Regions from separate parts of the Homo sapiens genome. Here regions 2, 3 and 4 are each reported to be linked to region 1. The links are microRNA targets in miRTarBase. Many come from high-throughput screens and were not tested one by one. Region 1 holds a microRNA gene; each other region holds the end of a gene's coding sequence.

The links. The annotated mature microRNA hsa-miR-603 reads CACACACUGCAAUUACUUUUGC and lies in region 1 at 2,334-2,355, shown strand. An mRNA with a match to its seed (bases 2 to 7 or 8) in the 3' UTR can be bound and repressed. Matches are read on the target gene's strand: a 7mer-m8 pairs with bases 2 to 8, a 7mer-A1 pairs with bases 2 to 7 and ends in A, and an 8mer does both.
Region 2: miRTarBase lists FGF9 as a target of hsa-miR-603. Seed matches in the 3' UTR shown: 7mer-m8 at 2,184-2,190, 7mer-A1 at 2,181-2,187, 7mer-A1 at 2,149-2,155, 7mer-A1 at 2,141-2,147 and 7mer-m8 at 613-619.
Region 3: the mRNA of KCTD16 is a reported target of hsa-miR-603. Seed matches in the 3' UTR shown: 7mer-A1 at 1,262-1,268.
Region 4: the mRNA of DENND2C is a reported target of hsa-miR-603. Seed matches in the 3' UTR shown: 7mer-A1 at 785-791.

Annotation. Positions count from the first base shown.
Region 1 is chr10:24,273,412-24,276,858 of GRCh38, forward strand. It overlaps MIR603 (microRNA 603), which reads left to right and starts at 2,274; the gene lies at 2,274-2,370. The region is part of intron 2 of KIAA1217; the gene reads left to right.
Region 2 is chr13:21,700,890-21,703,889 of GRCh38, reverse strand. It overlaps FGF9 (fibroblast growth factor 9), which reads right to left. Exons shown (of 3, transcript NM_002010.3): 3 at 1-2,700. The coding sequence ends at 2,455. Among named protein-coding and RNA genes, the nearest start is that of FGF9, 31 kb to the right of the region's middle.
Region 3 is chr5:144,473,947-144,476,946 of GRCh38, reverse strand. It overlaps KCTD16 (potassium channel tetramerization domain containing 16), which reads right to left. Exons shown (of 4, transcript NM_020768.4): 4 at 1-3,000. The coding sequence ends at 2,833. Among named protein-coding and RNA genes, the nearest start is that of KCTD16, 300 kb to the right of the region's middle.
Region 4 is chr1:114,583,069-114,586,068 of GRCh38, forward strand. DENND2C (DENN domain containing 2C) reads right to left here. Exons shown (of 21, transcript NM_001256404.2): 21 at 1-2,563. The coding sequence ends at 2,532. All of the region lies in intron 2 of LOC105378914 (a long non-coding RNA gene), which reads left to right. Among named protein-coding and RNA genes, the nearest start is that of BCAS2, 3.0 kb to the left of the region's middle.

The sequences.
Region 1 (3,447 bases):
TACATTATTATTTTTATGTTCTTCCTTTTGGAGTACTCAAGGTAAATGACATGGCAGAATCTGTCCCAGTCCAGTGAGGGTGTCACATAAGAGGCCCTTGGCTTACCTCTATGCATAACTGGCCCACGTCACATCTTTAATTAGAAGTCCAAGTTATTGGCTGGACGCCATGGCTCATGCCTGTAATCCAAGCACTTTGGGAGGCCAAGGTGGGTGGATCACCTGAGGTCAGGAGTTCGAGACCAGCCTGGCCAACATAGTGAAACCCTGTCTCTACTAAAAATGCAAATATCAGCCGGGTGTGGTGGCACATGCCTGTAATCACAGCTACTCGGGAGGCTTGAGGCTGGAGAATCGCCTGAGCACACGAGATGGAGGTTGCAGTGAGCCGAGATCGTGCCACTGTGTTCTAGCCTGGGCGACAGAACAAGACTCTGTCTCAAAAAAAAAAAAAAAGTCCAAGTTACTGTTGCAGGGATTGGGACATCTTGCCTTTCTCAAGTTGAGCAATATTCCCAAATATAAAAATGTAGGATCTTAGTCCAATCAGAGCAGATATTTGGTGTAGGGCATTTTCTAATGTAGTACCAATAAATTAGACGCATACCTCAACCAAAAAACAGCCCATATCCAGTAAGTAATAAGGCAATGATTTACATTTCACATATTACCAGAGTAATGACTAATAGCATACATGTATAAACTGAAAAGTGACTGATGCTTATTTTCAGATGGGTCCAAATTTATTGGATAATTATGGAGAATAATGTATGTTTTCTGAGAGTTGGTAGTAAGAAAATATTGCCATTGCTGGCCAGGCACAATGGCTCACACCTATAATCCCAGCATTTTGGGAGACTTGAGGTCAGGAGTTCATGACCAGCCACCTCAGCCTCCCAAGTAACTAGAACTACTGGTGCATGCCACCAAGTCCAGCTAATTTTTTTTTTTTTTTGAGACGGAATATTGCTCTGTCACCCAGATTGGCTGTGTTCTCCATTCTAAGTCCAGTGGTTAGAAATTGTCAAGTTCTCACATCTGCAAAAAAAGTAAAAAAGATGAACCTGCTACATCTAAATATACTTTGTTGTCTTCCTACAAGTCCTATTTTACATACTTATGGCATTTTTACTGCAGTTTGAAAATACAGTCAATTCTTGTTATTCACAGTATTGATGTTCTATAAACTTGCCCTAAATACTGCATTAGTGAGTCCTGAATTTATTAGTTAATACTGAATTTCCTAGGGGAAATACAGGGTTAGGTTCCTGTGAGTCTTTGGTTACCTTTTTATCAACCAATCAACAAAAATCCTTATTTTACCTGTGTTTTTGTTTGAAGACACCTTTTAAAATATATATTATTGATTCATTAGCATTGAACTAAGCTTATCTAATGCACTTATTTTTTGTGTAAGGTGTATCACAGCCTTCTTGAGCCTAGGAATGCCAAATAGTACTTCCACACCATACTTAAGGGCCATTTCATTTTATTTCTTATTTTTAAAATTTATTCTCTTTTCTTATTTAAAGAAAAAATTTGTAGATGCCGGGTCTCGCCCTCTTGACCAGGCTGGAGTGCAGTGACACAATCACAACTCACTGGAGCCTCAAACTCCTGGGCTCAAGTGATCTTCCCACCTCAGCCTCCCAAATATCTGGGACTACAGGCACACGCCACCATGCCCAGCTAATTTTTTAATTTTATTTTTTTGTAGAGGCAGGGTCTGGCTATGTTTTTGAGGTCTTAATTCCCCAATGAACATGACTAGTATATTCCAGGCTGGTCTTGAACTCCTGTCACAAAGCAATTCTCTTGCCTTAGCCTCCCAAAGTGCTGGGATTTCAGGCATGAGCCACTGCACCTGGCTTGGACCATTTTAAATAGTGAAGTCACTCACACACACATACACGCATGCAGGTGCACACACAGACACAAAAAGACACAAAAATGCGAAACTTGTGGCACTAAAAAGACTGTGGAAAGGGTGCTTCCTTACAGTATGAAAACTGAAACAAAAAAGCAGAGTGTTGTTTAGTTAGACGCCACCTGGGAACGTGCTTGTTGGGAAACTCCAGTTGTCCACTGTCCTGCCATGTCTATGATGACTGCAAACATTTGGGAGTATTAATTTGAGGGTCACAAACAGATTTTAGGTGATGGGCATATTTACAAATACAGAATCTGCTAGTAATGAGGACTGACTGTATAATGCTTTAGTAGTCTCAAGTATGTTTTTTTTCTCATTAAGCCTTTGCTTAAGATGCAGGCAAGATTGATGCTGTTGGTTTGGTGCAAAAGTAATTGCAGTGCTTCCCATTTAAAAGTAATGGCACACACTGCAATTACTTTTGCTCCAACTTAATACTTGGCTTTATTGACTTTTAGCATCAGTGCAGTTTGGTTAATGATAAAATTTTCCAAAGCAGTGTCTCATCTGCAGGAGCAAACTATAGCAAGGGCCCTGGCCATCAGTTCTCCCTTCTGGTCCTGATATTCCTTTTTAAACTGTCTTTCCATACCCCTCCCTCCAGTGGGCTTGGCGATGTTGCATTAAATAGCAAAGAGAAGGAAACTCCTCCCCAGTCCTCACTGACCATTTCTTTTTCCACTCAGTCCTGCTCAGAATGTAGAAGAGAAGTTGAATTTAATTCATAAATTCAGCAGCTTGAGGACTGTCAGTTTTGTCGTTATTTAGTGAAATAGTAATTGAATTGGGCTACAAGGTCATTGGAATCTGCTGTTTCATTTCATATCATTTTACGTGTTATTATTCTAATAAGAATACAAATGGAGTTTGATGCCATTTGCTGATCATCCATCTTATTGATGCCATTGAACAGAACGCAGAAACACAAAGGGATTTATAAGGCATTTCAGTTTTGATGTCCTTTGAAAAATGAAAGTCTTTTCAGAAATGCAAAAGACAAAATGACTTAGAATTCCATCTCGTTCTGCCCGGTTTGAGGGCATCCCTTCCTATTCCTTAGATAGCTGTTAATAAGAGTCCTGAGGAAAACTGGGTTTGAATTTAAAAACAAAAAATTTTTAAGAGACAGGGTCTCGCTTTGTCACCCAGGCTGGAGTGCAGTGGCACAATCATAGCCCCTGTAACCTTGAAGTCCTGGACTCAAGTGATGCTCCCACCTCAGCCTCCCTAGTAGCTGGAACTACTGGCACATGCCATCAAGTCCAGCTTTTTTTTTTTTTTTTTCTGAGATGGAATCTCACTTTGTCACCGAGGCCGTAGTGCAGTGGCGCGATCTCGGCTCACAGCAACCTCTGTCTCTCAAGTTCAAGTGATTGTCCTGCCTCAGCCTCCTGAGTAGCTGGGACTACAAGCATGTGCTACTACGCCCAGCTAATTTTTGTATTTTTAGTAGAGACAGGGTTTCACCATATTGGCCAGGCTGGTCTGGAACTCCTGACCTTGTGATCCGTCCGCCT
Region 2 (3,000 bases), not on the chromosome of region 1:
AAAAGTACCAAACAAAATTAACTCCAAAAGTAGACCTTAAAGTAGCGTTTTATAGGAATGCATGAAGATTTTTGTCTTTTTCACAATTTTCTTTCTTTTAGGTCGATTATCTAAGGTCTCATGCTACTTTAAGACTACTTTTGGCTGTCACCTAAAATCAATTTTTTCAGTGCTACATAGTATACCTATGACATCCTAGAAACTTGATTCTTCCCTGTGGTCAAATGTTTAATATTTTTCAGCCAAAAAAAAAATGCCTTTTGGAAAAACTAAAGCCTGAATATGTGCACATTTTAGCAGCAGCAAAGGGTTAAATAATAAATAAGAATACTACTTTTTGGAATTAAATGCAGTTTCTGTTTAGAAAGGAAAATAAAACAAGAAAATAAATGAAGAGGACATTCTGAGCTTTATCATAAATCAACTATTTTACATTGCTTCTGTCCCCTCCCCCTAAAATATATCTTAATTCCAAATATTAGACTTAGATTTTCCTTAATGCACATCAGCAGGAGGGCATTGCCATGTACTCCAACTTGGACCACAGAAAGGCAAGACATCGTCACAATAAGTCATGCGCTTCTAGCTCATAACAGCTGTCACTCACCAGTGACACACTTTTATTTTTCATAGAGAATGTGCATCAGAGCAAAATAAAGTTTGAATAGTAAATTTTAAAATTAGTTCAATAAATCCCAACACATGTTTAAACCGTCACTTTGCACTTCTCAACACAACTGGCTAGAAAGTGTCATATGTAGATGAGAATTTGTTATAAATTCCTTTTTTCTTAAATATTGCTTTAAGAATTTGGCTCTTTTCTCCTTAGTATATAGTAAGAAATAGTCTCGCTTGCCCAAGGGCAAGTTCCAAAATTATTGCTACTAAAGAAATACGTATTCTTATGCTTTTCAGCATAAAATGTTATAAAAGCCTTGTAAAAGATATTCTATATAGTAATATCCCCTCTAAAAAAATTGAGCGCTTGTGGAGACCATTTTAAAAAACAAAACACAGTCAACAAGTATAATACTTTCCCCCTCATTGTCATTATTGATAACGATTTATTAGTTTCATTTTGCAAGTTTTACTAAGGGTGCTATTACCACGTAATTATGACAGTTCACACTGATAGCCATTTTCTCTAAAAGATGTTACAATGACCCCTATGATACTTCTATAATTTCATATTTGATAGCCAAGTGAACCAAAAAAAGTTTACAAGTATGATCCTGTTAATCTGATTCTTACGTCTTTAAAAAAAATAGTCTGTGCTATGTACTTTTTTTTCCTTTTTTGAGAATTCTAAATCAATACAATGTTTGATGTTAATACTGTCATTCTGGAGATCGGCTAAAATGAAAGCATAGTTATTATTTAGCTTTGGTATATTCTGCGACAGATTTAAACAAGTAAGACATATATCAACCCTCATATTTTCCAACCATGAAGTTACAATAGTGGAGTCACTTATGAGAGAGGAAATATTGCAGACACAGAATCAAAGTTTGAGACCCAGTTTATCTTTAATCCTCTGGGATAAGCTATGAAACAAGCAGTCTGAAGAGTGAATACTCAGTGTCATGAGCGATGTGCATAAGTTTACAATAATATGGGCACAAAAGAGATTGTCGCCTTTAGTACATTAGGGTCATTAGAATTTCTTATATCCATGCACCATTATATCTACTTGCATGAATTTACCACAGGTTCATAGCGGACTTTGCCATTTAATGCTTACAGAGCCTAAAGCTTCCAAAATGCCTATCTGGCCTGTACATGTTTCATTAAAAATAAACTCTATATAATAAATAAATATATAAAATAAATAAAATGTTGCCTTTGGAATTTCTATAAATAAATTTAACTTTTTTTATTTTTATTTTTTATTTTTTTTTATTTTTTACTAAGAGGTCTTTGCTTTAAGTTCACTGCGATGATACCAGTGAGAATTAACTGAAAGTCTTTTAAGTAAGACTGCACCCTCGCGCAGGCCACCAGCCAGAATCCTGATAAGTCGAAGTATGGCAGCTGTGCTGATATAGGATGAAGTACAACTGATCAGAAATGAAAAGCGTGTCTTTTTCCAGCATGCATCAGGCCGCAGTCCTTTTGCTCTCGCTCCGCCCACATCTCCCGCTACACACATACACACACACACACACACACACACACACACATACACACACTCCTAGCGCTCAGTCTCTCTCTCTCTCCTCTTCTCTCATGATAAATCAAGCAAGTGGCCCTAGGCAGCCCTCCAGGAGGAGAAGCCTTTAAGTGCAGAACAAAATCAGCATATTCCCATCCAAGCCTCCATCATACATTATGCATGCGACAAAGTTTGGCAACAGTGGAGCTGATGTGATGACACAGCGAATCAATAAGAACCCACCGCGTGAAACCTTTATAGTGGTTACTTTTTTAAGGGCTCAAGTGAAGAAACTGTCTTTGTCAACTTTGGCTTAGAATATCCTTATACAGTTCAGGTACTTTGTCGGGGTCCACTGGTCTAGGTAAAAAATGTGTGAATTTCTGGTGCCGTTTAGTCCTAGTCCCTTCTCTCGGGGTCCCATCTTTATTTAATGCAACATAGTATCGCCTTCCAGTGTCCACGTGCTTATATAGGTTTGATGAGTACGTATTATACCAGTTTTCTTCGAACTGTTCTCTGAATACACACTCTTGGGTTAGTTTTTCCTGTAAAAAGAAAAAGAGGGAGAGCATTAGGAAAAATAGCTAATGCATGCTGGGCTTAATACCTAGGGGATGGATTGATAGGTGCAGCAAACCACCTTGGCACACGTTTATCTATTTAACAAACCTGCGCATCCTACACATGTACCCCAGAACTAAAAATTAAAATTAAAATTTTTTAAAAAGGTAAATAAATATGTTGCATAATTAGCTACATTCAATATTAAAAGTAACATTCCGTTGCTACACAATATAACCCCCATGAGAAAACACTGATGTTTTAGCCCATTTTAACCATTTTAA
Region 3 (3,000 bases), not on the chromosome of region 1:
TATTAGCAATTTATGGCCCTTGTCATAACCAATGTTCGAGAAGTAAACCATATATATTGTTTTCTTCAGAATTAAACAAAAAGTTCTAAAAACTATTTTAACTTCAGGGAAACATGCCCGAGTCACAGTGACTACCAGAGTTACTAGAGCATGTACTCTTATAACTCACTTACCCAGAACTCATTTCCAGTGTTGCAGGCTACCTGGACCTCACTTGATAACTCCACTCAAACTAGGTACTTTAAGCCTCCTCAGAGCCTTTTACTGGCCAGGTCTATGTTCATTTCTATATAAACACTCACACAAATAAATGCCATGCTGTTGTCTTAGTTACTTGAATATTTTACCATGGGATGAGTGCCAGTCGAGAGGTGGCCCAGAATAAAAATATTGCTGTTGTGATGGTTTTAAACAGGTTTTCTATTCCAGCTTTGTTCACTGGATGTATAAGGAATGTCAGAGCAGAGAAAACTCATGACAGGTCAGGGGTCAGAGGAACACTGCCACGAACACTCCTTTTGCAGTGTTTAATTTCCTGTTTAAAGAATGTAGTAGAAATATTGGGTTGACTATCATCTTAATTCTTTACTCTTATAAGGGTATCTCTCTATCTTGAGGCCATTACAGTCAGGTCTGAAATTTAAGGAAGTTGGAACTTTGGCCATTTTAGTTAGACCCCCAAAGTCTTTGACAGTACTTCCAGTGACAACACAATAATCATTTGACCAAAGTGAGTTTCAGGATATTTTCCCCAAATTCAACTTCTTGACCCATTAAGCTCTGTGATTCTTTGCAAGATCTTCTGTTATTAGGATGATGGTATTGCCATGTGCTATCAAGAAACATTGAAAAGAATCAAGACATACTGGTAAGTTTACAAACAAAGCTATGTTGTAGTTAAGACCAAATATCTGCTAATATATTAATACAGAAAAGAATACCACTTAAATTCATAAATTATAATTCTCTTGACAACTCAACTCCCAAGATAAACTTTCTTTTTCACTTATGTAAAACTTTCAACTCCATTCAAACCTTCAGGACAAGGAAACATTAGCTGAGTCTGTCATCCTAGTGTGAAGGCGAGAATTACAAAAATTCAGAAAGATATTCATATACTAATCATCACTAAGAACAGAAATCAAGACAGAACATCTTACATAATAAATGTGCATCAATGAAAGATTTCAAAAGGAAGAAATTAGTCATTGTTTTCCTCCTACAGATATCATCCAATTGCCTTTATTACCTGTGATACACATACACACATGCACACACACGCAATAAAACAAATTAGGAGTGCTTGGCACACAACTATTAATTGACAAATTATTTTTTGGTTACCACTGAAATGCATGAGGAATGCTGAAAATAAAACTGGTCTTTTAACCTTCTTGTAGCACAAGTCTATGAAAGAGCTATTGGTACCTTAGTAAAATACAGAGTTACATGGACGGATGGCTATTAACAGTTTCTTTTTGGCTGTGTCTATACAAGTCAGGATGTAATTGAAAAAGATAGTTTCATTTAGAAATCTGAAACCTTAACTCTGGAGCTTCAGTTACCTTGTTGGGTTGTTACAGACATCATAAAAATGACACAGCTAAATCCTAGCATGGGCACAGCCAAAGCCCGAATCCCAAAGGCAAACAAAAACGGCTACAAGCAAGTAAAAATGTAGCTTTGTAGTTTAAAATTTTTATAAGAAATTATTAGGTTGTGTGTGGAATACAACTTTCTCTAAAACAAACAAAAGGCCGGACCCTTATTCAAGTACTGTGTGTTGTCCTTAGTTCCACAACAACACAGGAACACAGAACTTAATGTGGATTATGTGGAAAGGCCACACCATTAAACTGTGGGCAGTAAGAACTCTGAAAACATGGAGAAAAGGGTGATAATTCAGTTCAGGGTAGAGAAGGCTGAGTGTGGAGTCATTTAGCAGAAAATTTTGTGGATATGAATGTTTGATTTTTTTAACACAAGGAATGTTTGACCAGCTCTCCTCATCCTCTCTTAATGCAGACAAAGAGCAAAGCAGTAAAATGGAGCCTGAGGGTATTAATTTCACAATAAGGAATACAATTTGTTGATGATGAGAGTCATTTGATGTTAGAAAGTGTTGTGAAGAAAGGCTGGGAAATCTTCCCAAAAGAATTTTAAGAAAGAGTCAGAAGCTCATCCATCTGAAATATTCTAAGAGAGGGCTGCTGGGAGCAGGAGCACAGCCCTTGGGAGGTCTAGGCCCTGGCATCGTGTGCGTCATGTGTATATACATACTTAGTTGTGCTTGTGTTGCACAAATACTCATGCATACGGAGTCAATATAAACTGGCACATATAGATTTGAGTGAAAAGTCATATAAATCTGCCATTCCCCCCAACCCCATAAACAAAAGGAAAAACCAAAATTAAAAATTCCAAACTTATGCCATTGGGCCAGATCTTTTTCTACCATACCCTCATTCAAAGGAGGGAGGTAGAAGGATGAGAGAAAAAACCCAGTTTGGGATAAATGACTCCCAAGGCCTCTCAGCTACTTTTACGTAGCTGGCTCTCATTATATATAAGATAGTTAGCACATGGGACGAAGTAAACAAACAAATAACTAAAAAAGATTTTCTTGTACTTCCACATCTAGAAAGAAATCTACCCTGTGGATTTACATGTTAAGGTGAACTAGGTAAAGTAGGCAGTAGTATATCAATGGACTATTGTGTTCTAAGAAATGTGCATCATTAGTTGTATTTTTTTCCTTTAAAATATGAATTCCTTTTAGGAGGTTAATTTCAAAATGACTTTTTTTTTTCTTTTCCCGCCCCCAGCCCTCCCTTATAGATGATACTTCCTTAAAAGTTCAGATTGCCAAGGATGTTTTCTCTCAGGAAACCGATCTGGAATTTTGATTTTTAGGAAATCCTGGATACATTTCTCCAGCTCCTCCTCAATTGAGAGCTTTTCTTTAACAGCTTTTTTTTTGCTGCTCATGTTCGATTCCCT
Region 4 (3,000 bases), not on the chromosome of region 1:
TTTACCCCCATTTTATAAACATCCAATTATTAACTGTTCCTGCTGGGTTGGAGTGTAAGAAGAGACCAAATGGAGAGATGTCTAGTAGAAGCCCCACTGGGGGTAACCTGCTTAACATTAAAAAAAAGACAGGCTCAGTTCTATTCCCTGGACCCACATCTGTAGGAATTATATTATACAGCACCAGTCTTAAATGGTGTTCTGCTTCAGATTCATGCATACCTGAATGGGTTGTAATGACAATACTGTACAAGTCAATAAACTGTATCACAATACAACTTACACAGTTTTGTAAGGTTGAATAAATACTTTCTGTGCCAGTTAAAACCATCAGCAGAAACTGAAGAAAACAAACTGACATTTGCTATAACATTAATCAATGAAAAGTGCACCATCTGAACTTGAATTTGCCCATGAGTTTGAAAACACACACACACACACACACACACACACACAGGCCGGGTGCAGTGACTCATGCCTGTAATCCCAGCACTTTGGGAGGCCAAGGTGGGTGGATCACCTGAGGTCAGGAGTTCGAGACCAGCCTGGCCAACATGGTGAAACCCCCGTCTCCACTAAAAGTACAAAATTAGCCAGGTGTGGTGGCGGGTGCCTATAATTCCAGCTACTCAGGAGGCTGAGGCAGGAGAATTGCTTGAAGCCGGGAGGCGGAGGTTGCAGTGAGCCGAGATCACACCATTGCACTCCAGCCTGGGCAAAAAGAGCGAAACTCCATCTCAAAAAAAAAAAAAAAAAACCGAAACAAAACACACACACACACACATACACACACAAAAAAAACACTGCACCATCACTGAAAACTTTCTCTTTCCAATCACTACTACTACTACTTTAGATATTAAAGGTCTGGATGACTAAGTGGTATATGTTCAAGGAATGTTCATATTTTGAGTCTAATTTAATTAGAGCAAAAATTTCAACATTTCTAGGGGAATAAAAAGAGTCTCATCTAGGCACCTATAAAGTTCCTTATCCTCAGAGCTGAAAAGTGGCTCTGGTACACTTAATAGAAAATTTTTATTAATAAAAGAAATAGCTATATAATCCTACTGAGATGAAATTTCCATCTGTAGGACTAACCAACTTTTTCTGTGTCCATAAAAGTCTTGGCTTCAGTTCTGTGTTGTACAACTTTGGGCAACGTATTTAACTTCTTTGAATTTGTTTTTTTCTTTTTTCTTTTCCTTTTTTCTTTTTTTTGAGATGGAGTCTCGCTCTGTCACCCTGGCTGGAATGCAGTGGCGCGATCTCGGCTCACTGCAACCTCTGCCTCCTGGGCTCAAGCGATTCTCATGGCTCAGCCTCCCGAGCAGCCAGGATTACAGGCACCTGCCACCACACCCAGCTAATTTTTTGTGTGTATTTTTAGTAGAGACAGAGTTTCACCATGTTGCCAGGCTGGTCTCGAACTCCTGACCTCAAATGATCCACTCGCCTTGGACTCCCATAGTGCTGGGATTACAGACGTGAGCCATAGCACCCAGCCTCAGTTTATTAGTAAAATGGAGATGCAAATATCTATCTCATAAGGTTGATTTAAGGATTGGTTGAGATGATATGCATACATATACCACAGTGCATGGCACATGGTGGACACTAAAAAATAAAGGTGGCTCCCATGCCCTTGAAAGGACATTTTCATATTAGCTATAATTTCACAAAGTTTAAATTTATTTACTTATTTTTAAAATGTTTTTGTAGAGATGGGATCTTGCTATGTTGCCCAGGCTAGTCTCAAACTCCCACCCTCAAACTCCTGCCTTAGCCTCCCAAAGTGGTGGAGATTACAGGTGTGAGCCACTGCATCCAGCCTCCACAAAGTTTAATGTTGACATGTGAGGCACAAGCAAACTACTCAAATGCCACATAATTTGGAGGAGGAGTTGCAAGATGTCTAATTTTATAAGGTACTTAATAACAGTACCTTATAATATTACAAGTAGGGCTTCCTCCTAAGTGAGATTCCCCTAGATATAATATAAGGCAAAACAATGGAGATATGTGATGAGTCTATTCCTTAGCCCAGGTCAAACAGCCCATGGGTTTAAAGGGGCCATGATAGTTCAGTGATGAGAATTATGTGTATAAGGCTAGTGTTCTCCATTTCCATCATGTCTCTCTACTACCTTAAACTCAGCATTTCTCTCATTATTCTCATCTTTGAGCTATTTTTTAAATGTAACAACAACAAGGCTTTTCCTTGTGAAACACAACTACTTTCACAGACAAAGCACAAAACAGAGAATGAGCCCAAGAATCACATAGAAAAGGCTGCTATAAAAAAAAAATGGAGACAGAGTAAAGATGGCATGGTGCCAGACCATTCCCAACAATTCTCCAGTGATTACTACAGCAGCAACAGGAGAATCCTCCTCTAACAGCCTGACTCGCTCTTTAACCTTTTAAAATTTCAAGAATTTTGTAGAATACTTCATGGGATCCTGACCCTTAGAAAAATATTTTCTTTGGCACTTTCTGTTGTATATTCAGGATGGAGACAATCAGAGATTTCATTTCTTTTGCAGAAATTTCATTTTGCTTCCTAAAGGGAAAGAAAAGTACAGTGAATGCTCAATTCATTTTTATTTATTGTACATTATTTGAGGTAAGGGATTAACAGGTCAGTCATTCAGAACAGCCCAAGAGTTAAGCTGACATCTCAAACTCAGTTGATGTGTTTAACCCCCAAAACAAAAACAAAAATGAACCCCAAACCCCATATGTCTAGTTAATTGTAGCGGCAGAAAAGAACTCAGACATCATGTAATCCAGTGGTTTTCAACCTTGACTATAGGTTAAAATCACCTGGCTTCTCCCCAGAGATTTCCTGGAGCCCAGGGGAAAATTTTTTTTAAGTTCTCTGGAAATTATAAAATGTAGTCAGAGCTGGGAACCACTGATCTAATCTAACCCCATTGTATAAAGATGAAATAACAGCCTAAGGCCTAATTTGTCCATGGTCTGTCAGCTAGTGAAGGA